4 separate regions of the Homo sapiens genome follow, and all the other regions are linked to region 1. Evidence: fine-mapped expression QTL. A gene starts in region 1. Each other region holds a variant in brackets. All regions are shown on one strand. Distances are from middle to middle.

Region 1 (5,485 bases):
GGTGAGATTAATTGGGGAATAAGGGTCATGTCCCTGGCATGGGTGCTGGGAATGAACCCTGGATTATCAACCACCTTGAAGCAGGCTTCTGTCAGGCCAGCACAAGGTACTATGAGCATATATATTACACAACTATTACATGCCAGGGCAGGACACAGAGATGTGGGCTGGGCCCTAAAGGAGCTCATCAACCCAGTACATATGTAGCCAACCTTTGTGTCTTTAGACTCACCTCCTTAGAGACACCCCAACTCTGGGATGTCTCAGCACTGATGAACCTTACACTGTCAAACATGACACCACTTGCAATTTTGTAAGATCCCTAAGGGACAATTTGGAGAAAAGTTGGTCCACCTCCCCAGTCACAACCTTACAAGTCAATTTAATTCAAGTCCGCAAAGCCCTACTGAATTGTCTCCAGGATATTCATGTATATAACAAATCTTCATTAAGCACCTCTTAACTGCCAGGCACTGTGCTGAGCCTTGGAGAGTCAACAGGGAGTAAAGACAGGCACAGCCCCCACTTCTGCAAAGTCCATAGTCAACAGAGAGACACAGATGGCAAAGAAATACTCATCACAAATCAATGTATACACCGAGAAAGGTACTTTGCAGTAAGCGAACACTCAAAAATCCAACCTGGGAGTGCAGGAGGCTTCTCCAAGAAAGTGATGCTTCATGGATACACCAGGGATGAGGAAGAATGGGAACAAGAGTTGGGGGTAGAGGAAGAGGTGATGTTCCAAGCAGATGGCCCAGTGGTGGGAGGGAACGTGGTGGGTTCAGAGGCTGAAAAGCAGCCAGTGTGATGTGAAGGAGGGTGCGAAGTGTGGGTGGGTGGGTGGTGGGATTCAAGGAAGAAGTAGTCAGTGGGGTGGGCCATGCATACTTTGGGGGCCCCTTCAGAAGTGAGGTCTTTATCTCAGAAGCAGGGGAAGCCATTGGAGGGTATTTAAATCTACAAGGGCGTAGGGAGTCCCTTGATCAGATCTGCACTGTTGGGACTCTGACTTGCAGAAAGAGGAAGGACTGGAAGAGGGCCAGAGTGGAAGCAGGGAGACCTGTTGTGAGGCTACTGCAGTGACCCAGGAAATAGACGATGGGGGCTTGGTCTAGGATTCTGGCAGTAGAGATGGGTGGACTTGAGAGCTGTGTAAGAGGTAAGATCACTGGGCCTCTGGTTGCATTTAAAGGGTGAGGGAGAAGAAGGAAAGAACACAGGCGGCTCCCAGGTTTCTGGCTGCATTGATTGGGTGGCAAGTTGGGCTGTTTGCAGAGCCAGGGAGCCATGCGGGAGGAGCAGATATGGAGGAAAGAGAAGATCCTTAACATGGATGAATCACATGCAACGTGCTTTATGCAGGCCACTATGCTGGAGGAGGGGAGCTTCAAAAGTGCATACAACAAACACTTTTACTGCCTTCAAGAGCAGTGCCAAAAAGAAGTACCGCTATGGCTGCAGGAACAGGGTAGCCTAAAATGTTTATCTATGGCTCTAGAGCAGTGCTCACAGCACAGGGCTCAGTCATATAAGCCACTAAGACGTATTTGATAAATGTCTGTTAGGTCACTGAATGTCCCTAGTGCCACATACAGATAACAGACACCAGGACAAAAAGAAAAAGAAAAAAAAAAAGGAAACACAAATCTTTTACTCGGCACATTACTATATGCCTAACCTGTCTCCATCAGGGTAAGACAGAGGCAGAGAAGGGCAAGATCAGCCCCTTCTTGCAAAAGGCCTACAGGGGGTTTGAGGAAACCAAGTCGTCACACAGCAAACATTTAGAAGACCACAGGGCAGACTGTATGGAGAGCTATGAGGATCTGACTCAGGTGGCCAAAGAGATGTGCAGGAGGAAGCCTGCGATCTGATGGGACCAGAGAAGAAGGGAGCAAGTGTTTGCCAGAGAGGCAGGCCCGACTGAGCCTTTAAGAACGAGCAGAATGGGGGTGGGAGCGGGGACAGGCAATGTAATAAGGTCACTCAAGTCCAGGCAGGGACACCCCGACACTCTCGCCCTAGATGGCCTCCTACACTGGAAGGAAGATGCCAGTCTCGCCTCGGATACCTACATGCTGAGATGGCCTACTTTTAAAAGGAATTAAAGTCCTGTTAAGAAACACTGGGGACATTTTTTTCAGACGGCTCAGGAGCCAAGTTCCCTAATTATCAGCAAAGCTCGGGGCACCCCCTTGCTGGAACCAGTCCCCTTCCACCACAACAACAAAAAAAGAAAAAAAAAGCCACCGCACCGACCTTAGCACAATTTCCTTTCTTCCTTCAAAGTTCTTTTCTGGCCGCCTCGGCTGCCGCCCACCCCTGGCAAGCCCCGGTTCACTTCAGCGGTCTCTCTGCCTGTTTCCTAATAAATTCCGTCTCATTGGTGCGGGAGGCGCGGGAGCCCGAGGGTCTGCGGCGCGGGAGCGGCCCCTCCCCGGCTCCGGTCTCCGGGCCCAACCAGGCGCCCGGGCTCCGCGTTCCACCCCCGCCTCCGCAGTCTAGGGCCGAGTCGGCGACGCCCCAGAGGAGGTCCCGGAGGGAAAGGACCCCTGTCGCCGTGCCCCGAAGAGCCTGAGCGGGTGTGCCCAGAGCCAGTCCCCGGCGGCGCGGGGGCCCGGGCGCGGGAGACCCTCCGCGGAGAACACAGCGAGGAAGAGGCTGGGGGGGGGTTCCCAGGCGGCAGCCCCTCGGAGGGACGACGGCCCCAGGGGATGACACAGCGTTTCCCCCGCACGCCCTGGCTGCGTCCCCTCAGGGCATCGGCCGGCTTGCTGCGTCAGCGAATCCTCAGCCCGAGATGGAGAGCAGGGACGGGGGACGCCGGACCGCCGCTCGCCTCGGCACTCGCCCCCTCAACCTGCTGCGCGCGCCGAGCCCGGCTTGGGGGCCAGGGCTGGGGAGTGACCGCGGGGCGCGACGCTGCCCGGCGGCACCGCCAGCAGCTCGAAAGGAACGTCAGTCCCCACCGGGGGAAAAAGTTAGAAGGCATCCCGGCCACGCCAACTTCCCATCCAGGGCCAGACTAGAACTTTGCGTCCCGGGCGGGCAGCTGCACAACCCGGAGCGACCCTGAGCAGCCGCTCGAAGCCGGGCGCTCGGGACCTTGACCGCAGCCGCCGGTGGCCAATCACAGGGCGCCGCGGGCGGGAAAGGCTAGAGGGCGCGGGCAGTCGGGGAGTGACGGCGCCAAGGGCCAATAGGAAGCCAAGATGGGAGTCCGCGCCCGCCCCGTTGACCAATGGGAAAAGGGTGACTGTGACCGAGGTTCCCCCCCTGGCGCTAGCTGCAGGCTCCGCTGGCCGCGGGTGGGAGACCCTTGGGCGGAAGGGGACTTTGGAGGGGAGTTTGCTCGTCCTCTCTTTGCCACCCGCCGGCCCGCAGACCACAGCCCGGTCCTCACCTGCTGGAAGCGGGGTTTGCCCAGTTGGAAAGGAGGTGCATCGCTCGAGGCGCTAGCGGCACTAGCCGCCGCCGCCGATGCTGTAGTCGCTGTATCCGCCATGGCCACTGACGCCCGCAATCTCCGGCCCTTTTAAAATGTCCCTCCTCGGCCCCCGCCACAGCTGCCTCTCCCGATTGGCCCTAATCAACCGCAGCGAGCGGGAGGCGCAAGGCGTTGTGGGGAGTGTAGTTTTTCGCGTCGCGGCGCTTACAACCGTAGACTGCGGAGAGTTGCGGCCGTCCGGAGAGGTCTCGGTGCCCGCTGTCCGCGTTGCAAGGTGCAAGGTCGGCAGTCCAGGAAAGGTGTTCCTGTACGACGACCACGGGCCACCCCTCGCTGCTTAGTTGCCCCCAGAAGTTAGAGTTGCTGCCGTGGGCGTCGCTCCTGGGGCCAGGCAGCGCAGAAGGGTCCCATTCAAGGGGGAACCTGGGACCAGATGGGCAAAGACTCCAGGCGGAGTAGGGTTAACCTCGGAAGGCTTTCTCCAAGGAGTTGCACTGCGGACCTTCTCGTACTTTCCTCCGTCGCCACCCTGCCCACTCGTCCTGTGCTCTCCGGCTGCCCTGACACTCAGTTCCTGGAGCATGCTGGGGCCTGCCCGCCTCCCGACCCCTGAACATTCTGTACCCGGAAGACTAAATCTTCGCCTGATGCTGGCTTTCTGGCTTTAGCCTAAACATTGCATTTCCCAGTCCATCACTCTGCTTGCACAAAATCCCACAGAGGCTCCGTGGCACCCAGCACTTCTCTTTTGCACTCACAACTACTTACTGTTCTGGACAGTCTTTCTTACTGTAAAGTTCACAGGGCAGGGGCTATGACTTTTTGATTCACTTCAGTTTTCAGAGCCAGACATAAAAGGGCTCACAGTAGAGACTCAAATAAGTGTTGGCTGTGAGTTCATCAGTGGGGGATTAAGAGCCCTGGCAGCTTTCACCTTGTCTGGCCAACCAAGGAAGATCCCTCCTGGGCCTAATTCCTGGGCAGGAGGAGAACTTGGGACTAGGGTGGGTGGGGAGGGTGTTAGGTAAGGGGGAGTATTACAGATTGTGGAGTAAGGATCAGTATGGATAATAAACACATACAGTTGTAGAATGGATTAGCTGAAGATTCCCAGCTGAATTACCTGGTCAGTGAGCCAGACTTCGGGAGCTGCCTGTTTTGCCCAAGATGACAGTAGAAATATTTGGTCTTCTAGGGAACTCCACTTTGGGTCTCATTAGTCTCGTGGTGGAGTGCAGGGTTGGCTCATGTCTGCCAGTGTTTCTGGACACTACATGAGCTGTAGCAGTCAAAGTTTTTCATCCTCTAGTAGTTGAACCACAAGAAACACTTTTCATAAAGCTAGGGGGAGATTCTAGCTAGCCACGAAGAACAATTTGTATCTTGGATTTGTATCTTATCTTAGAGATTCTATCTAGCCATGAAGAACTATTTGTATCTTGGATTTGTATCTTATCTTCCCCTGCTAGACCATGCAACTTGAGAATAGGAATCCATTTCTTACCCTCTGTATTACCAATAAATGGGCCCATCTTAGGTGCGCAATAAATGTGGGTACCCTGGGAGTCAGAAAAGACTAAGTTCAGGCTGCTGGGCAACACTGTGCTGCTGCCCCCTTATAAGGGGCAGGGACAGTGTCATCCAAGAATCCCATCACCTTGATTTAAGGTGCTTTCTCCCACAGCAGCCTCCTGTAACTGTTCATTCCAAAACAGGAACACAACAGAGCCACCTGCAGTACATGAATGTTTTATTCTTCATAAAGTGCTTAAAACATGAAGAACAAGCTCTTTATAAAGAGCCTTAACTAGGAAGACAAACAGCAAAGCAGAACCATGCCTGCTCCCTGCCCAACCCACCTGCAACTTTCCTCCAAGTGTGGCTAGGAGAAGAAACATCAACAAGGACCCTGGGCTTCGATTCAAAAACTCCTCTGAAGCCATCCATGCCCTGGGCATTAGGGAGGCCCACAAAGGTCAGGGCCAGGGCTGGGAGTGAATAAAGCCCAGAGGAATCCCCAGTAGGGGGGGTGAC
Region 2 (5,791 bases), 81 kb before region 1:
AGGCATGCACCACCACACCCAGCTAATTTTTCTATGTTTAGTAGAGATGGGGTTTCACCATGTTGGCAAGGATGGTCTTGATCTCCTGACCTCATGATCCGCCTACCTCGGCCTCCCAAAGTGCTGGGATTACAGGCATGAGCTACCACACCCAGCCTAGATGTGCTTTTTAACTAATGAATTAAAAACAAGATCTATCAGTTGATGTATTAAATATGAATTAGTGACCGGGCATGGTGGCTCACGTCTGTAATCCCAGCACTTTGGGAGGGTGAGGCAGGTGGATCATGAGGTTAGGAGTTCGAGACCAGCCTGGCCAACATGGTGAAACCCCATCTCTACTAAAAATGCAAAATTAGATGGGCATGGTGGCGCATGCCTGTAATCCCAGCTACTTGGGAGCCTGAGGCAGGAGAATTGCTTGAAGCTGGGAGGTGGAGGTTGCAGTGAGCCGAGATTGCACCACCATACTCCAGCCTGAGTGACAAGAGTGAAACTCTGACTCAAAGAAAAACAAAGAAAAAGAAAAAAGAAAGAAAATATGAATTAGTGTTGAGCATAAATAATATTTTAAGACCTCTGTAACAACTGTAATGTGCCATGAAAACATCTGTGATTTCTACTGGTGACAAAGTCACAGGTCCTGCTTCTGACTGTGGTTTGCTGCCTGCATTCGTAACGGAAGGAAATGTTAAAATGCAGTTAGAGGTTAATGTAAATCTTTTCCCTGACCAAGCTCACAGGATCCGCTGCATTCTGTCTACTGACCCCTTGGGGGTCTGGGACTGCAGCCTAAGAACCCCTATGCTGAAAGCAGAATCTCAGCACAGAGCTGGTCAGTGGGACCCCATGGTCTTGTCTTTTAGCTAAACATATTACACCAATTCTCCCAGCTGGGTGCCCCCTGGGCATCAGGAGAGGTGTGGAAGGGTCATCTGTCTCCCTGGGAGCCCAGCGGTCCCCCACACCCACCCACAGCACACATCTATGTGGTGTGCAGGTCTTACCTACAGCAGGGAACGGCACAAACCTCTGGATGAGAAGGCGGGTGGCTGGGGTGAACTTGTTGGCTTTCTGAACCAGGACATTAAGGCCCACCTTTGAAAGAAAAAAATAAAAACACAGAAAAAGTACATGATGCTGCAGTGGCTTGTGGGAGGAGGGGGCAGAACTGGAGGAACATCAGAGAGTGAGGGATGTCATCTTTCCCCACAACTGCACCTCACACCCCTAATCCTCAGCGTCACCTGAGGTTGCAGAGCTCCAGCGTCGCTGCTTAAAGTACCACTGCCCAGTCATCCCAGGTAACTGGCCCATGAGAAAGAGGGAGAGAGGTAAAGCATCAGAGACATACACACACACACACACATACACACACATTTACACACTCATACACACACACTGCAGAGGAGAAAAGGGATAGGATGCTGTGGCAGTTGCTCGTAGAAGAATACATACTCCATGAATAAATGAAGTGTAGGAAGGCCTCATTCCCACCCCAGCCCTAAGCACCATCTTTCTGAAACCCCATGGTACATGCAGGTGTGGGCCCAGCCAGACCATAAGGGCTCAGGACAGGGAGACCCCGACACCTGCCCACAGGCTGCAGGACTAAGCAGCATAGCTCAGGGCAGGATGGAGGGTGAGGCGGATGTCCTGGACTCACTGTCATCGCCTTCATACCTGTCACCTGGCCCAGGATGCCAGACACCCCACCCCAGCCCCTGCCTGGGGTCTTCGTCACTCCAGTCCATCTCCTAGGCTCTTTCATCTTTCGAGAGCACAGGCTTTCTCATGTGTGCCACACCAGCTCCTCTCTATGACCAACGTGTCTGAGAAAGTGTCATCTCCTTCCCACAGCAGCCTTGGCCTCCATAACCTCACTTCCCCTCTCCCCCAAAAACCCAAGTTCAACCCCGAGAGTCCAGTTTGCTGCCCATCAGATCCTCCGTGAGCCTTCCAGCCATGGGGCCTTTGCAGTGCTGGTCCCTGTGCCTGGGATGCCTCCCTCCTCCGCTCAGTTCACACCTGTTCTTTCAGGCCCACCCATGAGTTCCACCTCCAGTGTCACTTACTAGCAGTGGGACCTGAGGCAGGTAAGTCATTTCATCTTTCTCTGTCTCAGTTTACCTATCTGTAAAAAGGGATAGTAATACCTACAACACCCCAGGGCTGGTATAAGAATGTATGTAAGTGGTGGGTGTGAGCTTGGCATATAAGAGACCTCAATAAATGAAGCTATATAATCATGATGTCACGGGACCGGATGGGGTGACTGCACCTTTTTCATCTTTGTATGTCCACCACTTAGGGCTACACTCACTGGCACATAGTACACGCTCAATAAACTGGTGACTGAGGAATAAATGCAGGAACCAACAAACATACGACGGCATGGAAAAGGCAAAGGCTGGGAGTGGGGCTTTGCGGAGGAGAGAAAGATGGGGTTGGGCTAGGCAGAGGAAAAGGACTTTCTGGTGGAGAAATGCATACAAGTGCAGGCCTGGAGAGAGAAAAGACAAGATGCATGAAACCAGAAAAGGAGTTGGGTTGCAGAGGCCTCTGCTTCCCCAGACAGAGGCCAAAGCCAGCCCCTGTGCTGTCTTTTCTGGGAAGCGTGGGAGGAGCCGTGGCAGGACTCC[T/C]GGCCTGACGGGCCGGGGCAGCCTGCTCTGAGGTCTGGCACGCCTGGCGGCTCAGCAGCCCACCCTGTGCCCTCAGGCCTGGCTCTGGCCTTAATGTTGTGGGTGGTTGGGGAGGACGCAGAGCCTTGGGAAGGCCTCCAGGGCTGCCAGGCGCCTGCCGCTGTTGGGGCAGGGTGCAGCAAGGCAGAAACAGCCCAGCCCAGGCTGCGACTGTGAGACCCAGGAAGACAAGGAAGTGCTGGTCCGCCAGCCCCGGGGCAGCGCAGCATTCCGTGGAGCCAGAGTACTTCCTGGCATGCCCACCCTGGGCTCTCGGGAACACAGCCTCCATCTTAAGTCTCAGGCTGATCCTCAGAGTCCAATCCTTGTCCTCCCAGCTCGCTCGAGGGAAGGCTGGGAGGCAGCCAGGGGCATCACGGCGTGGACACACTTCAGTGGTACAGTGGGCAGGGCTGGGGAGCTGCCGGCTCATACTGGGCCCTGCTGCCCCCGCCACATGAATAGAATTCATCAAGTCCAGGAGCGAGTGACTCAGAAATGGCCTCCCTCACCCCCAAAAAAGTGCATTGAGAGAAAGTGTGGGAGGAAGCTGGAGGACACGCAGACGGGCAGTAGCAATGAAGAGGAGGGGGGCTCGGGAGAACTCAGTGAGCACTTCCTACGTGAGGCCACTCAGCACATATTCACATGAAATATCTTAATGAGATCCCCACAACAAGGCTTTTAGATAGACCATGTTGGCCCTTTTCACAGATAGAGACAGGTCCAGAGAGGTTAAACAACTTTGCTCAAGGATAGACATCTATTATGAGGCAAGTAAAGCTAGCATTTGAACGCAGGGCCTGCTAATTCCAAAGCCTTGCTCCTAACCAGGGTGCTATGACTTTCCCATTGTCTTCCACCTGAGGGAGGGATGCTTTAATATCTCCAGGCGTTTGAACGGCACATCTGCATAGCAAGCACCTCCCTGACAATGGCCACCTTGGGGCTGGGGTCCTAACGAGTGGAAAACAGAAGGCAGCTCCTGCAGGGAAGATAGGGCCCTTGAACCATCCCTGCCCCCAGCAGCCAGAAGTCAGAAGATCTGGGTTCAAAATCCTGCTTGACAATTTAAGAAGATATAGGAAGTGCTGGAAGAGGCGGGGAACAGGAGCCATTCACGGAAGTGAGCAGAGAGGCTGGGACCCTTCCCCATGACAGCCTCTTGGGGGTAGGCAGGGCTGGAGAGCAGCGGGAGGGAAAGGAGGAAAGGTGACCATCACATTTCCCTCCCCCTCTCCAAAGCCTCCCCCTCCCTGGTCGGCCATTCTTCCCACTGGCTAGGCCTGGCACAGCCCAGAGTGTAGGGAGGAAGAACGAAGAGAGAAAACAGTGTCCTCGTCCCAGGTTTCTTCTGGCCTCTCCTTCCCTGAAAGTCACCAGGGTCTCCCAGCATGGATGGGGTGACATATAGTGCGGCACACATATGTTTCTGAGAGCATGGCCAACGTGCCTGCGCCCAAGAAAGGGGCTGGGGACCAGCAAAGTAGGGAGGAGACCTGGGCATGTGTGTAGCTGTGAGCTCATGAGGAGTCAGTGAGGTCACAGTGCCCACTTGCCAGTGATGGGCCCAGTGGCAGGGAGGGCGTGGACACGGAAAAGGCAAATGGCCACTTACCCTCACCCCTTCCCAGGCCCCAGCCCAGGTCTTACCGCCCCAGCACCTAGGACAGCCACGGCCTGAGAAGGAACCCAAGATGGCTGCAGACCAGGGGTTAGGAGCCCGTCTGTTCTGGTTCCTCAGGGCCCTTTGGCCTTGAACATTTGGTAGAGCCCGTTAAAATTAAAAAGCCAAGAGGCTGGTGGCTCTGAATGCCAGCTCGTTTTTCCCTGGCACGGCGGGTCCTGTTTAAGGGAACCAGCTGGTATTAATGGCACACAGCTCATCACAAACAGCAGCTAGCGATCAGAAAAATCAGAGCTAATAATCGGGTTCAGGAAAGATAATGAGATGTGGAACAATTACTGCTGAGGGTCCCCCAGGATCTGTTTTAACAGCATCCAAATAAGCCACAAAATAGAAATTAACCAAACAGGAGCTCCATTTTGGTAGATGGGGAAAACAAACAGGGTGTGGATTTTGCACAAGAATTTCTTATATGGCCAGCAGACAGGGCTTCTTGGAAAACCAGGGCTCAGGCCCCACAGGACATCAGCAACATCCTGAAGGAGGGAATAGGCCTTCTTGACCACCTATCTCCAAGGTCTGGCTACTGGGCCAGTGAATTTGCCATGAGCAGCTGACAGGAGACCAGGGGAAAAGGAGGGAAGGCCGGCTTCCTGATAGTCCCCACGGAGATGGGAACAGGGCTGACCAGCACCAGGAGCTATGGGTGGGGTGGGAGCTTCATGACACCAAATCTTTAGTGTCATGAGCTACACAGCTGGTGGCTGTAGCCTTAAGTACCAAGGGCTTTCCGGGCCAACAACAGGCCAGCAAGGAGACACTGGATGAGGCTGGAAGAATGCCTGCATCCCTCTCCCCGCATCTGTGCCCCCACTGCAGCCTGAATATCCATTGCCTGGAGGATGCCTCTGTGTCCAAGGGCTCTAGGCACTCCAGCTTCTCGCACCCCAAATGAAGGTTGTCTCGTTCTTCCTCACCCACACCCCAGCCTCCTCGCCCATTTCCAGCTCTGCTTCTCATGCCAGAGACCTCACAGCGTTCTGGGCAGGAGCCTCCTGGGGCCCACGTGTAACCATGGCTCCCTGGTGCATCTCCCGGATGTCATGAATGCAGCTGTTTGCTCTCCCTGCTCCCAACACTCAGCACGCAGCCTCTGTCCCTGGATGACAGTGCACCTCCTAACCAGGCCCCCTGTTTCCACTCTTGCCCCCATCCATCTGCTCTCTACAGCAGTCGGAGTGAAGTCTGAAAACATGGCGACTTGCTTAAAGCCTTCGGTGACACTGGAGGAGCCACACGGCCCTGCGGGACTGCCTGGCTTGCTTGCAAGGCTCTGGCTACCTGTATGAGGAGGTGCCGTGAGGGAGTGGGCCCAAGGGTCATGAAGGCTCCTGAGGAAGGGGATGCCTGCCTGAGCCCTGAATAGGAGGCTAGGAAGGGAGCAGGGCTCAGCCAAGGATCAGAAGCATGAAATACCAGGTTG
Region 3 (5,791 bases), 73 kb before region 1:
CTTGACTGGCCCTGATCCTCCTCCACTCACGATCACCATCACTCCCTACCCGGTGGCCGCCCTCCTGTTCTGAGCCCGGAGTTGGTCATGCTCTCCTGTGCACCTCTGCTTGTACGGTGCCCTCTCTCTGGAACACCCACCCTGCCTGCCCCTGGCTCTCTCCATTCTGTCCTACGAGTCAGCCCTGTGTGAAGTAGGGGCCCCTCCCTGCTCCCACCACACCCTGGGGTCACCTTCATCATAATTCTGATTATACCACAGAGCCTTCTAGCTTCCCCTCTCAGTGCCTTGAAAGATATACCAGTCCCTGAAGCCCCCAGCACCTGCAAAGTACCCGCACATCACAGTCCCCCGATGGGAGTCAATGTCTCTTACTTCCTCTCACCCTCGTGTAGCCGGGGCCCAGGGAGGGCCGCCCACAGAAGTGCTTAATGCAAACTCTTGAACTAAAAAACAGTGAGGATTGAGAGAGGCTTCCTTTGTTAAAAGACAGCAAACTGTTAGATTTCAAAAATAACTTAAGACGGGATTTCTTTTTTATTCTCAAGCAAGCAGCCAGACATTGCCAAATCTATTTAGAAGGTTCACCAAGAGGCTGCTAATCCCACCCTGGTGGTCCTGCAACCAGCAGGAGTCTTCACTTGGGGGCATGCAAACTGGGGATCCCTGACTCCAGGGTTGCTGGCCAAGGTCAGGGCTCCTCTGAGTGGGGCAGGGAGCTCTTCAGGGCCCCCAGAGGAGGCTGGCCTCCACTCCAGTTTGCCCTCTGTCCCAAGGACCTGCTTGCAGCCTGTCGGCCCCCATCCATGCCGCCTGCTTGTAGGGACTCGTTTTAATTAATGCCAGAGCTGGGCCAACCACTGGGGCCGTGACACTTGTTTGCAGGTCATCTCCTCCTAACAGGCTTGCCCTGGGAGGGGATTTGTCACTAATTGAAACAGAGATCAGTTAATGAGGCTGTAGGACCTGGGGTTCCAGAGAACAAGGGAAAGGAAAATAAAATAAAGCCTCTTTCTTCAGAGGTTTTGTGACTTACACACACAAAAGAAAAGCAAGCAAGCTGCCGATTTTCCAAGTCAGAAACTCCACTCCATCTGCCGGAGTTAGACGCTCACTGTGTGAAGACGTCAGGCGGAGGGACGCCGCCACCACTAGGACTCGCAGATCGGAGGGGCCTCAAGGCCAGCGATCAATCAGTGGCCTAATTAATAAGTATTTATGGGGCAGTGCCCTGTGCTCCTCTCCATGGGGGAGAAGCCATGGTGCCCGTCCCTGGTTAACTTGTAATCCAGTGGGGATGAGGCTCAGACTGCAGAACACTAAGGGGACAGGGACACAGTGCGACTGAGTGTGAGTGGGGAGGACAGGAGTTTCCAGGACTTGTGAGGAGGGAGAGTGCTATGGGCTGGAATGGTTGGGGAAAGCCTTTCGAGGGGTGCTGGAGCTCACAGGGAGGAGAAAGGAGGGAGTCCCCAGCACAGGCACAGCCCCGCGTGAGGCCCCAGCCCCTGCCCAGCAAGAGCTCAGCTCTGGGAACCCCAGAGGGCTCCAAGTCCCCCAGTAACTCTGTCTTCAGAACCCATACCCCACAAATCTGTGCTAGGTTTGCCCTGGCAAGTGGTTGGGACGGAGCGGCTGATGGTCCCTCAGGTGGGGCAGTGAGGACTGGACACACAGAGGGCTCGGAGCTCTCAGAAAAAGCTGAGTTTTGTTTTTTTTTTTTTTTTTTTGAGACAGGGTTTTGCTCTGTCGCCCAGTCTGGAGTGCAGGGGCACAATCGTGGCTCACTGCAGCCTCGACCTTCCAGGCTCAAATGATTCTCCCACCTCAGCCTCCCAGGTAGCTGGGACTACAGGTGTGCACCACCACACCTAATTTTTTTTGTATTTTTTGTAGAGATGGGGTTTTGCTATGTTACTCAGGCTGAGAAGCTGATTCTTGTTCTCTGAGCCCCAGGCCTGCAGGTGAAGGAAGTCCACCAGGACAATGATCCCCTTCACTCAGGCCTTTCCATTCAAGGCCACTCAGCATCCTTCCCTATGTAGCCTCCTCCTCTCACCTTGCCCCTGAGTCTCAAAAAAAGGAAGGGGATTTTTGAGCTGCTAAGCTAAGCAGACCATCAGCTCCTCTCATCACAAGGAACAAGGAGGAGGTGACAAGAGTTCTTTCTCCCACTCAGGGGAGCCTTTGGCCTTCACCCACCAAGTCCCCAGTATCAGGGACCCCCAATTTGTCTGACTCCCAAATGAAGTCTCCTGCTGGGCTGCAGGACAAGCTGGGTGGCAGGTCAGCAGTCTCTTGGTGAGCCACCTGAATGTCTCACTTCTTGCTTTTGTGAAGACATAAGGATTTGGGAAAGAGATCTTGGGCATGAAATGGGACATCCCACTTCACAGCTATTTGGAGATGACTTGGTCTATGTGGGAGTGAAATAAATGAGGCCATTTCAGGACAACCCCAAGTCCCTCCTTTAGAAGAATGGTGAATTAAATTGTGGCGTATGGTACAATGGGTAATTATACAGCCGTGAACAGTTATTATACAGTATTTACTTAATGGCACTGGAAAGATGAGCAAAGGGGGTTTTACCAAAAGGTTATTGTATGTGAATTCTTCATTATATGTGAATGTTTTCTTTTTCATTAGAGATAAGATCTTGCTATGCTGCCCAACATGGCCATAAGCAATCCTCCCAACTCAGCCTCCTGAGTAGCTGGGATTACAGGGGCACACCAGCTTGCCCAGCTGAATGGTTTTGGGGTTTTTTAATTTCTTAAATTTTTTATTATTTATTTATTTTTTTTTTTTCTGGAGATGGAGTCTCACTCTGTCGCCCAGGCTGGAGTGCAGTGGCGTGATCTCGGCTCACTGCAACTTCTGCCTCCCAGGTTCAAGCGATTCTCCTGCCTCAGCCTCCCAAGGAGCTAGGATTACAGGTGCCCACCACCATGCAGACTAATTTTTGTATTTTTTTTAGTAGAGACAGGGGTTTCACCATGTTGGCCAGGCTGGTCTTGAACTCCTGATCTCAGGTGATCTTCCCGCCTTGGCCTTCCAAAGTGTTGGGATTACAGGCGTGAGCCACTGCACCCGGCCTTTTGTTTTTTTAAATGGGGTCTTGCTATGTTGCCCAGGTTGGAGTGCAGTGGCTGTTCACAGCTGCAATCATAGCACACTACAGACTCCAACACCTGGGCTCAATGATCCTCCTACCTCAGCCTCCTGAGTAGCTGGGACTACAGGTGTGCCCCACTGTGCTCAGCTATGTGAATGTTGTTTGGTTTTCATTTTCTAATTTTTTTTTTCTTACCAGTTACATTAATGTATTGTGTAATGGATGAAATGACAGAGTTGTGAAGGGGCCCTTCGCCCTCTGGAGTCGGCTATAGAAGGCCATCCTAGTGGGGATCCAGAGACAGCCAGACGTAGGTACAGGGGCGGGCTCAGGGGTGGGACAAGCATGCAGAAGGTCCTGGCAGCTTGAGCGTCCACTCTGGCTCTGGCCCAGGGCCCTGACTGTGTCACTTGCCCCTGGCCTCCTCTGGGAAGCAGGGAGCCACACCTGCCGTACCCTCACGCTCAGTCTCTGAACCTCCCCTACTGAGTAGCTGCTCTGGCCTCAAAGTACTGTGGAGACTCA[G/C]AGTGAGCCTAACGCCCCTGGCTTCGGGCACTGACAGGTCTTCAGGAAGAGCTGGACGTGTGACACCAGTAAGGCCATAGAGAGGGAAAAGCAGTGCCCCGGCAGCTGAGCAAGAGCTCAGGGGAGCAGGCACATGGGCAGGCCTTGCAGAGTCATTCAGAGGCATCCCCCCACCCCGCTCGCTCCAGCCACGTTACCGAGCATGAGGAGCAGCTCTTCCGAGCAGAGTGCTGGGCAACCGCAGCCCCACTCAAGACAGATGTCCTGCCTCAGTGCCCCCAGGCACAACCTCACCTCCCCACCTGCTCTCCATTACAGGGAGCACCAGGTTGTGCTCTGTCTACTGGAGCCTCTTCTCGGCTTGGAAAGCCTGTCCTGACTCCTCCACCCACAGAAACCTGTCTCCCAAATCCTTGCCTGGCCTGGCCCTCAGACAAGCATCCACCTGCAATGCTGAGCGGGGTGGCCCCAGAGCAGCAGAGCCAAGAAGGAGCAGGGGAGGGAGTACTCACAGCAATGGAGACGGCGCTGATGACAGCTCCCAGGTATCCCTGGATGAACTTGGATGCAGGTGAAGGCTGGAAAACAGAGGCAGAATTTCAGGCCTGCTGGGTGCCCAAAGCTCCCATACTTCCCCTTGTAAGCTGTCCCAGCCAGCAAGAAGCATCCTGCCCACCAGCCTGGAAAGTGGGTAGAAGGAAGAGGCCCCTCAGGACTCAAAGGGATCAGGCCACCCTCAGCTCAGTTCCCAATGCAGAAATATAAATCACCAGTATCCAGGGAGATACTGAAGGGCCCACTTCACTCCTGCCCTGTTCTAGAAAGGTCACTGGCAGACAGTGCTGGGTGGAGGTGGAGAACAGCAAGGCTAACATGGACCATTGAAGGCTGGGGCAAGCAGTCTTCAGTTTAGAGGCTAAATGTTTCAAGGGGGCCATTTGGCATCTGGAGCGCTTTCTAGGTGGAAATGCCAGTGTCAAGGCTCTCACAGGCCTTGCCAGCCCATGGAACAGCTGGGCTCCCATGTCAACAGATGATAGCTGCCCAATATCTCTAGAGAATAATATACCCCAAGTTCCAACACAGACAATTAAGAAAAAGCTAAGGAACTTGCCCTGTGCTACAACTGCAGGTCTAGAAGTGTCTGGTTTAAGATAAAGGGAGTCATCCAAGCAGAGATGGCCATATGTGAAGCCTATGAGAGAGACTTGGGGTGGAGGTTTAGATGTCAGGGGGCAGCCACAGCATATCAGGCCTCTCAATTCCTATGGCCCAGGCCAGCTCCTATTCCCCTCCTCTCCCCCAAGGTGAGCAAATGTTAGGACTCTCCTCTACCCCAAACTGACAGGCCCCCAAAGGGGACTTAGATGCATCCTGCCTTCTTTGCCTTTGAATTGAAGTTGGGGAGAGGTGGCCTTGCCAGCAAAGCAGGGGCCCAGCAGCCCTTCCTGGACAACAGAAGGGTGACTGGGCCTCCACCACAAGCTCTCCAAGGAGTGCAGGGGCTCTGGGGGGGAGTTACCAGCCCTGGACCCTCCCCACTCAGGAGCAGCCCTTCAGCTTGTGGCCAGCAGTCGGGACCTGGGAGCGCTAAGGCAGCTTCCAGAAATTTTGGAGGAAGCTTTATGGGAATTTTGCCCCCAAGTAGCTGATACCATCATGATCCAAAACCCAAATGTAAGAGCTACCCAAGAAGAATCTGAAAGCCAGCCGAACTCATCCCTTGCACTGCTCCCATTTAATGGGCCTTCTTCACTTCATGTAAACAGCCCCTCCCCAGAGGGCTCCTGGCCCAGAAACTGCAGCTGACCTCAGCTGAGTCATGTCTGAGTCGGCCACCCACCTGAAGGGCTGGCATTTTAAATAAGATATCTAGAGGAGGGCCATGCTTAACCAAGAGGCAGCCACTGATGGTGGCATGTCACGCTGTAGGGAGGATGACTGGGCCTCCCTAGCCTGAACCCCACCACTGGGGAGAGGGCAGTGATGCTCACCTTGGTCGCATTGCGGTTTGCATAGTTGACACAGGCATTGTGGCTCTGGTTCAGCCACTGAAAGGCAATGATGAGAGAAGTCAGGGAAGGAGTGGTCACCTCCCTGGAAGCCAGGCCTGGACCCCAGGAGGCCACACATCCCCAGAAAGGCACAGCA
Region 4 (5,791 bases), 36 kb before region 1:
ACAGGACAAGGACTCAGGTCTGACTCCTTGGGTCTAGGCTTTTCCCTAGGACCTGCTGGATTAAATGTTGACTTTAAGGGGTTAAATGTCAGATGCAAAAATGGCAGCAGGTAATGTACCACCCACAAGCCAAGAGCTGGTTGCTAGTTTGAAGTTTCACAAGCCAGTCCTGCAAACAGGTGATGGGGGAGGATCATCCTAGGGTGTCAAGAGTTCGACGGGACATCCTAGGATATCAAGAGTTCAACGTCTTCTCACTAGACCACTGAAGCATCTCCACTTTAAACTACAATTCCTGCTTAAGACCTCATCTTGTGTGGGCTCAGCCCATCTCCTCTGTGCCTCTGCTGAGCATAAAAATATGCAGCTTTGATCCCTTGGGACTTACTGGCTCCAACAACAAATCAGTGTGGATATGAGACTTTGAACCTTGCTTGATTTCTCAACTTGGTAAATAAGAACATGGAGCAGGTGTGGAGAAGCAATCCGGGTGAGAGGTGGCTGGAAGATCCCAGAAGTTGGCTAATTTCAAAAACAGCCAGCATCTCAGCTGAAGTGCCATCTGAACCTACCTGAAGTTCGGTGTAGAGTCCAAGGGAGGGGCAGAGGACACTCACCAACTGGCCTTCTCGGGCAGAGCGGGGCACACCCCCAACACCCAGAGGGAGGAGGAACAGCCCAGCCCCACCCCCAATCTGGCTCGCTCCCCTTCCCCTCTGCCTCCTTCCAAGCTGCTTCTCCAAACCTCCCAAGGCAGCAAAGACAGAGCCTATTTAAAACAACCTCCAGAAGGTAATTAAACAGAGCCTGAAGGGGATCCTTCTGTAAGGCAAAGAATGCCTCCATAAAACAAACAAAAAAAACTTCCTAATTTATCAGTTGGGCCAATCGCATTATACCTCACCATTAATTTTGTTGCCATGGTTACTCCCAGGTAATATGTACCTATTGCAAGTCTATGTCAGGTGAGGGTACCCCCAATTCTACAGACTCACGAAAGAAGAGGGACTCTTCGCCTAGTTCTGCAGCATAGCACACAGCAGCAGTTGCAACTTCCCTATACACGCAGTTTGTTTCTATCCAGACCTGGGTTTAAATTCTAGATCTCCCGCTTGCTGGCTATGTGATTTAGGGCAATACGCTTAATCTTTCTGAGCCTCCTCTTCCTCATTTGTAATATGAGGATGTGAATATTTTCAAGGTTATTGTGAAAATTAATAATTAATTTAACAAATTTACTTATTTAACAAATATTTATTGAGCATCTACTATGTGCTGAACACTGCTCTAGGTGCTAAGGACACATCAGTGACAAAAACAGGCCAAAATCTCTGCTTTTGTTGAGTTTAGAGGGTTGCACAGACAGACAAACGATAAGCAACACAAACAATAAATAAGCACATTTTCTGATATGTTAGAAGGAAAAGTGCTTCAGGAAACTAGGGAAAATAGACCAGGACAAGAGGATAGCAAGTGTGAGCAGGTGGCAGAGATGGAGATTACAGACATAAGTAAGATAGTCAGGGTGGGTCTCACTGAGGTGATATTGGAGGAAACACTTGAAGGAGAGAATGAGTCATGCAGCTATCTAGTGGGAGATTGCTCTGGTAGACAGAACAGCCAGTGCAAAGGCCCTGAGGCAGAAGTGGGCCTGTCTGGTATGTTTGAGAGACAGCAAGGAGACCAGTGTGACTGCAGTGGACCAAATAGGGGAGAGCAGTAGGAGACAAGATCAGAGAGGACTGGGGGCTTTGCAGGCCAGGTTAAGGACTATGGCTTTTACTCTAAGTGCAAAAGAGGAACACTATAGTTTCTATTAGAGCAGTGGTTCTCAACTAGGAGGTGGATTTTGCACCCAGGGGACATTTGGCAACATCAGAAAACATTTTTGATTGTCATGACTGGGGAGGGGAAGCTAATGGCATCTACTGGGTCACAGCCAGGCAGGTTGCTAAACACCCTCAGTACACTGGACAGCCCTCGCAAAAAAGAATAATCTGGCTCCAAATGCCAATCGTGCCAAGTCTGAGAAACCCTGGAGCAGAGGAACAAACAATGTCCTGTATAATTTCACAGGTCACTCTGTGTGCTGTATCAGCAATGGACAGAGGAGCCCAGGTAGTATAGGCAGATCATCCAGGAGGCCACTGCAGGGACCCAGCCCACAAATGCATCTACAGCACTCAGTACGACACCTAGCACATCATACAAATGACTCACCTCCTACTGATCACTTGCCTGTTCTGTGCTACCAGTTAGGGCCATGCTGGGCCTGGCCCAGAGGGGCAGGGTGCTGACCAGGATCCCCAGAGCTTGATGCTAGGAGTCAGGGTAAGACTAGTGGGTCAGCCAAGCCTTCCCTTCGGCATCTGACAAACCTGCTGACGCCCACAGAAGACTTGGGGCACAAGTATTTTTAAGCCTGCCTCTGGTATTTGCTCTGTTATTTTCAGCAAAGCCCAAACACAGCTGACCCCATTGCCTTCCTGCCAGAGAAGACTTGCAGGATCTCTTGCATCCCAGCAGCTCTTTCTCCTAGGCAGGTC[G/A]CAGACAGAAATCCATCCTGCATGGGGGCTCTGAGCAATCCATACATTCATTACCCTGGGTGCAGGGTAGGCACTTAGGAAAGGTTGGCTGGTTCCCAACCTCTGGGGAATGTTGAATGATGGACAAGCCCAGCCACTCAGGAGCTACAGTGGTTCCCAGTAACCTGCTCCCCACACTCCCCATCACTCCAGTTGCTTCCGAGCTGATTTCCGTAATAGCACTTATTCCTCCCCAGTGCACTCTGGCACTGCCACTGACTGATCCTACCACAATACCACTGTCGTGCTACTCCCTTGCTCAATAGCTTTCAGTAGCTTCCTCTTACCCCACACAATGCATCCAGCATCTCTGCCTGGTTTTCAAAGACTTTCTCAATCTGGCCTGTAACCTCCAACTTCCTTCCCAGCTTTCTCTTTCTTGTCTCTTCTCTCTGTCTCTGTCACTTACAGAAGATGTCTCTCCCATTAGATCTAAGAGGCCCAGTGTCAGATCCCTGCCCCACCACATACTAGCTATGTGACCTTAGGAAAATAATGCAACCTCTCTGAGTCTCACTGGAAAATTGGGTTGATACAGGTACCTACTGACAAGTTTATGTGAAGATTAGCTGAGATAATATGTGGAAAGCGCTAGTACTTATGGTGCAATACCTGCCACTTCGTAAGCATGCAGCGAGCGGTGGCTCACCATGGGGAGGGGTCTTCCATATTTAGCCCCACCCACCTCCTCCATCCACACCAAATCATTCTGGCAAAGCCCCAGCATATACAAGTGTACAGATCAGAGTCAACATTCAGAAACTTAATGGCTGTGTCTATGCTTACATTTTTGTATACCATGGTTTTGTTTTTTTAACTGATAGCTACAGTCCTTATTACGGTTACTAGCTCTTCAAATTTTCACCTGCTAAACCCAAAAGTTAAATTATACTCATTTTTATTTTGTCCTCAGAACCAGTGATTCATTGGTATCGCAATCTTTTTTTTTTTTTTTTTTTTTTTTGAGACCGAGTCTCACTCTGTCACCCAGGCTGGAGTGCAGTGCTGTGATCTCGGCTCACTGCAACCTCCACCTCCTGGGTTCAAGCGATTCTCCTGTCTCAGCCTCCTGAGTAGCTGGGACTACAGGTGCATGCCACCATGCCTGGCTAATTTTTGTATTTTTGGTAGAGATGGGGTTTCACCATATTGGTCAGGCTGGTCTCGAACTCCTGACTTTAGGTGATCCACCTGTCTTGGCCTCCCAAAGTGCTGGGATTACAGGTGTGAGACACCACGCTTGGCTGGTATAGCAACCTTTAAACAAGGTAACGGTCCCTGGAGGAGAGAGCAGCCACCCACAACAGAAGACCAAACCAAGGCCATCAGGAGCAAACAAACAATCAATACATTTGCGCATACCCACTGGTGAGGTGTTGTACCTGGAGGTCAGGTTAGATGACAAACTGGGTAAAAAAAGAGAGTGTCACAAGTTAACCAGCACTGCCCACAACACCAGGACAGGCCTGCAGGCCTCAGGACCCAGTTGCAGGCTTCTGGCCCACACACCTGCAAAGGCATGAGAGCAGGCGCAGAGCCCAGGTGCAGGTGAGGCCACTGTCCAGACTGAGAACAAGAACCACCCGGGCCGCTTCAGATGAGCAGGGCCAGCCTGGGCCAGGAACAGTGACTGTTAACTATGGATTGCCAAGCCCCCCAAGCCCTGAGCTGCCATGTCACCACTTATCCCCTCTGCTCCTGTGTCTGCAGAGGCCAGAGGAAGGTGTAGATTGGCTGACTGAAGCCCAGGGAGGGAAGCATTTGTGAGAGCTGGTGCTGGGGGAGCCAGGAGGCTGGGGGAAGGGAGGGAGAGGGAGGATCTGCCTCTAGGGGGCCATAGTGGCAGGCTCACACCTAGAGCACTGTGCTACCCAGCCACCAGATGGACACTGCAGGCATCACCAACATGAGCCAGAATCGGGAAGCACAGTTAGTGCCAAGCTGCCCCTCCACCCAGTTCCCCTCCTCCTCAGCTCCCTTGAGGCACATGGGGGCTTTCAGGACAGAAAACAAAGGAGGCCTGGGAAACAGGACAGGCAGCTTCAAGCTACTGAAGGGAGCAAAGAGGAGGAAATGTGGCTTCATTCCCCAAACTCTGGGAGCTGGAAGGGGTCCCAAGAGGCCAACCTCAGCAAGAAAAGGGCAGAGCGGAGCCTGGGCCAGGAGGAAACACATGGTCAGGAGGCCATAGAGGCAGGACCCAACTCTCACAGGTCTCAGAAGAACACGAAAAGGGCTGGGGACTGCTTCGGCCTGAGTAGGGTGGGGTACCAGGTCACACCATCCAGGCTCTTAGGTGCTCATGGCCAGAGAGAAGTCCCATTGCTCAGGGAAGAGGAGATCGCAGCCTGCCCTCCCGGCTGACGGCTGCCCATGACTCAGCACGCAGTGCACACGCCTTCAGATGGGCCCCATGTAAGCAGGCACTGCGGGTCTGTCACTCTCCCAGGGCCCTGCACAGGGGCATCTGGCCAAGGTGCTGCTTCCGCTCATGCATTTGCCCTCTATTCCCATCACCATGCTCCAGTCTAGCACATTCGCCCATTCCCTCCTTCTGTAGGGTCTTGCTCCCTCGATCTCCAGCACAGTGTGCACCTCCTTGCCTGGACCACCCCCACCTGCTCTTCACCAGCCCTGTCAGCCCTCATATCTCAGGGGAGAAATCTCTTCCAGATGCCCTCAGTCTGGGAGGGTCACCCCTTCCACGGCTCTCCCATGGTATCATGTGCTTTCACTGTCACTGCCTGGTTTCTGGTGGTGTAGACAGGAACTTCATCCAGCTTCCTACCTGCTCTATCCCCCAGGCCCTACCCTCGCTTCTGGCCCATAGAGATGGATAGAAGAGAAAAAAGGTGAGAAAACCTACGTGTCAGCCTATGATGGCTAATATTTGACTAACAGAAGTTCCAGAATGAGAAAAAGTGATGAAAGCAATTAAAAATTTTGCCAGAGCTGAAGACAGGAGTCTTCAGATTGAAAGGGGTAATGAAGAATCCAAAATGATAAATTTTAAAAGAAACAGCATTGTGGAATTTCAGAAACAAATTTCACAGATAAAGAGAAGATCCTAAATATTTCCAAAGAAAGAAAACAGACCGCAAAGAATCAGGAATGAAACGGCATCAGGTTTTTCAACAGCTATATTGGAACCCAGAAGAAAATAGCGCAATGGTCTTCAAAAATCTGAAGGAAAATGATTGTCAACC

Which allele goes with the higher level. Positions count from the first base shown, and alleles are read on the strand shown. Sizes are in standard deviations (SD) of each study's normalised expression.
With allele C in place of T in region 2, the expression in tibial nerve of the gene that starts at base 3,515 in region 1 is higher (moderate effect, 0.46 SD a copy in GTEx).
In carriers of allele C in region 3, the expression in unexposed skin of the gene that starts at base 3,515 in region 1 tends to be lower than with G alone (large effect, 0.82 SD a copy in GTEx).
As copies of G replace A in region 4, the expression in esophagus mucosa of the gene that starts at base 3,515 in region 1 goes up (moderate effect, 0.69 SD a copy in GTEx).

Evidence for each region.
Region 2: its variant is fine-mapped to the expression of SFXN5 in tibial nerve (GTEx, PIP above 0.99).
Region 3: its variant is fine-mapped to the expression of SFXN5 in unexposed skin (GTEx, PIP above 0.99).
Region 4: its variant is fine-mapped to the expression of SFXN5 in esophagus mucosa (GTEx, PIP above 0.99).

What each region holds. Positions count from the first base shown.
Region 1 is chr2:73,068,198-73,073,682 of GRCh38, forward strand. It overlaps SFXN5 (sideroflexin 5), which reads right to left and starts at 3,515. Exons shown (of 14, transcript NM_144579.3): 1 at 3,407-3,515. The coding sequence starts at 3,508. RAB11FIP5 (RAB11 family interacting protein 5) reads right to left here. Exons shown (of 6, transcript NM_001371272.1): 6 at 5,185-5,485. RefSeq lists a silencer at 2,454-3,243 and enhancers at 3,384-3,433, 3,634-4,113.
Region 2 is chr2:72,987,251-72,993,041 of GRCh38, forward strand. It overlaps SFXN5 (sideroflexin 5), which reads right to left. Exons shown (of 14, transcript NM_144579.3): 10 at 1,008-1,098. Among named protein-coding and RNA genes, the nearest start is that of EMX1, 73 kb to the left of the region's middle. RefSeq lists a silencer at 1,850-2,049. The variant T/C (reference allele first, on the strand shown) is at 2,643.
Region 3 is chr2:72,994,797-73,000,587 of GRCh38, forward strand. It overlaps SFXN5 (sideroflexin 5), which reads right to left. Exons shown (of 14, transcript NM_144579.3): 8 at 5,635-5,691; 9 at 4,153-4,218. Among named protein-coding and RNA genes, the nearest start is that of SFXN5, 74 kb to the right of the region's middle. The variant G/C (reference allele first, on the strand shown) is at 3,641.
Region 4 is chr2:73,031,969-73,037,759 of GRCh38, forward strand. The region is part of intron 3 of SFXN5 (sideroflexin 5); the gene reads right to left. Among named protein-coding and RNA genes, the nearest start is that of SFXN5, 37 kb to the right of the region's middle. RefSeq lists an enhancer at 4,656-5,541. The variant G/A (reference allele first, on the strand shown) is at 2,547.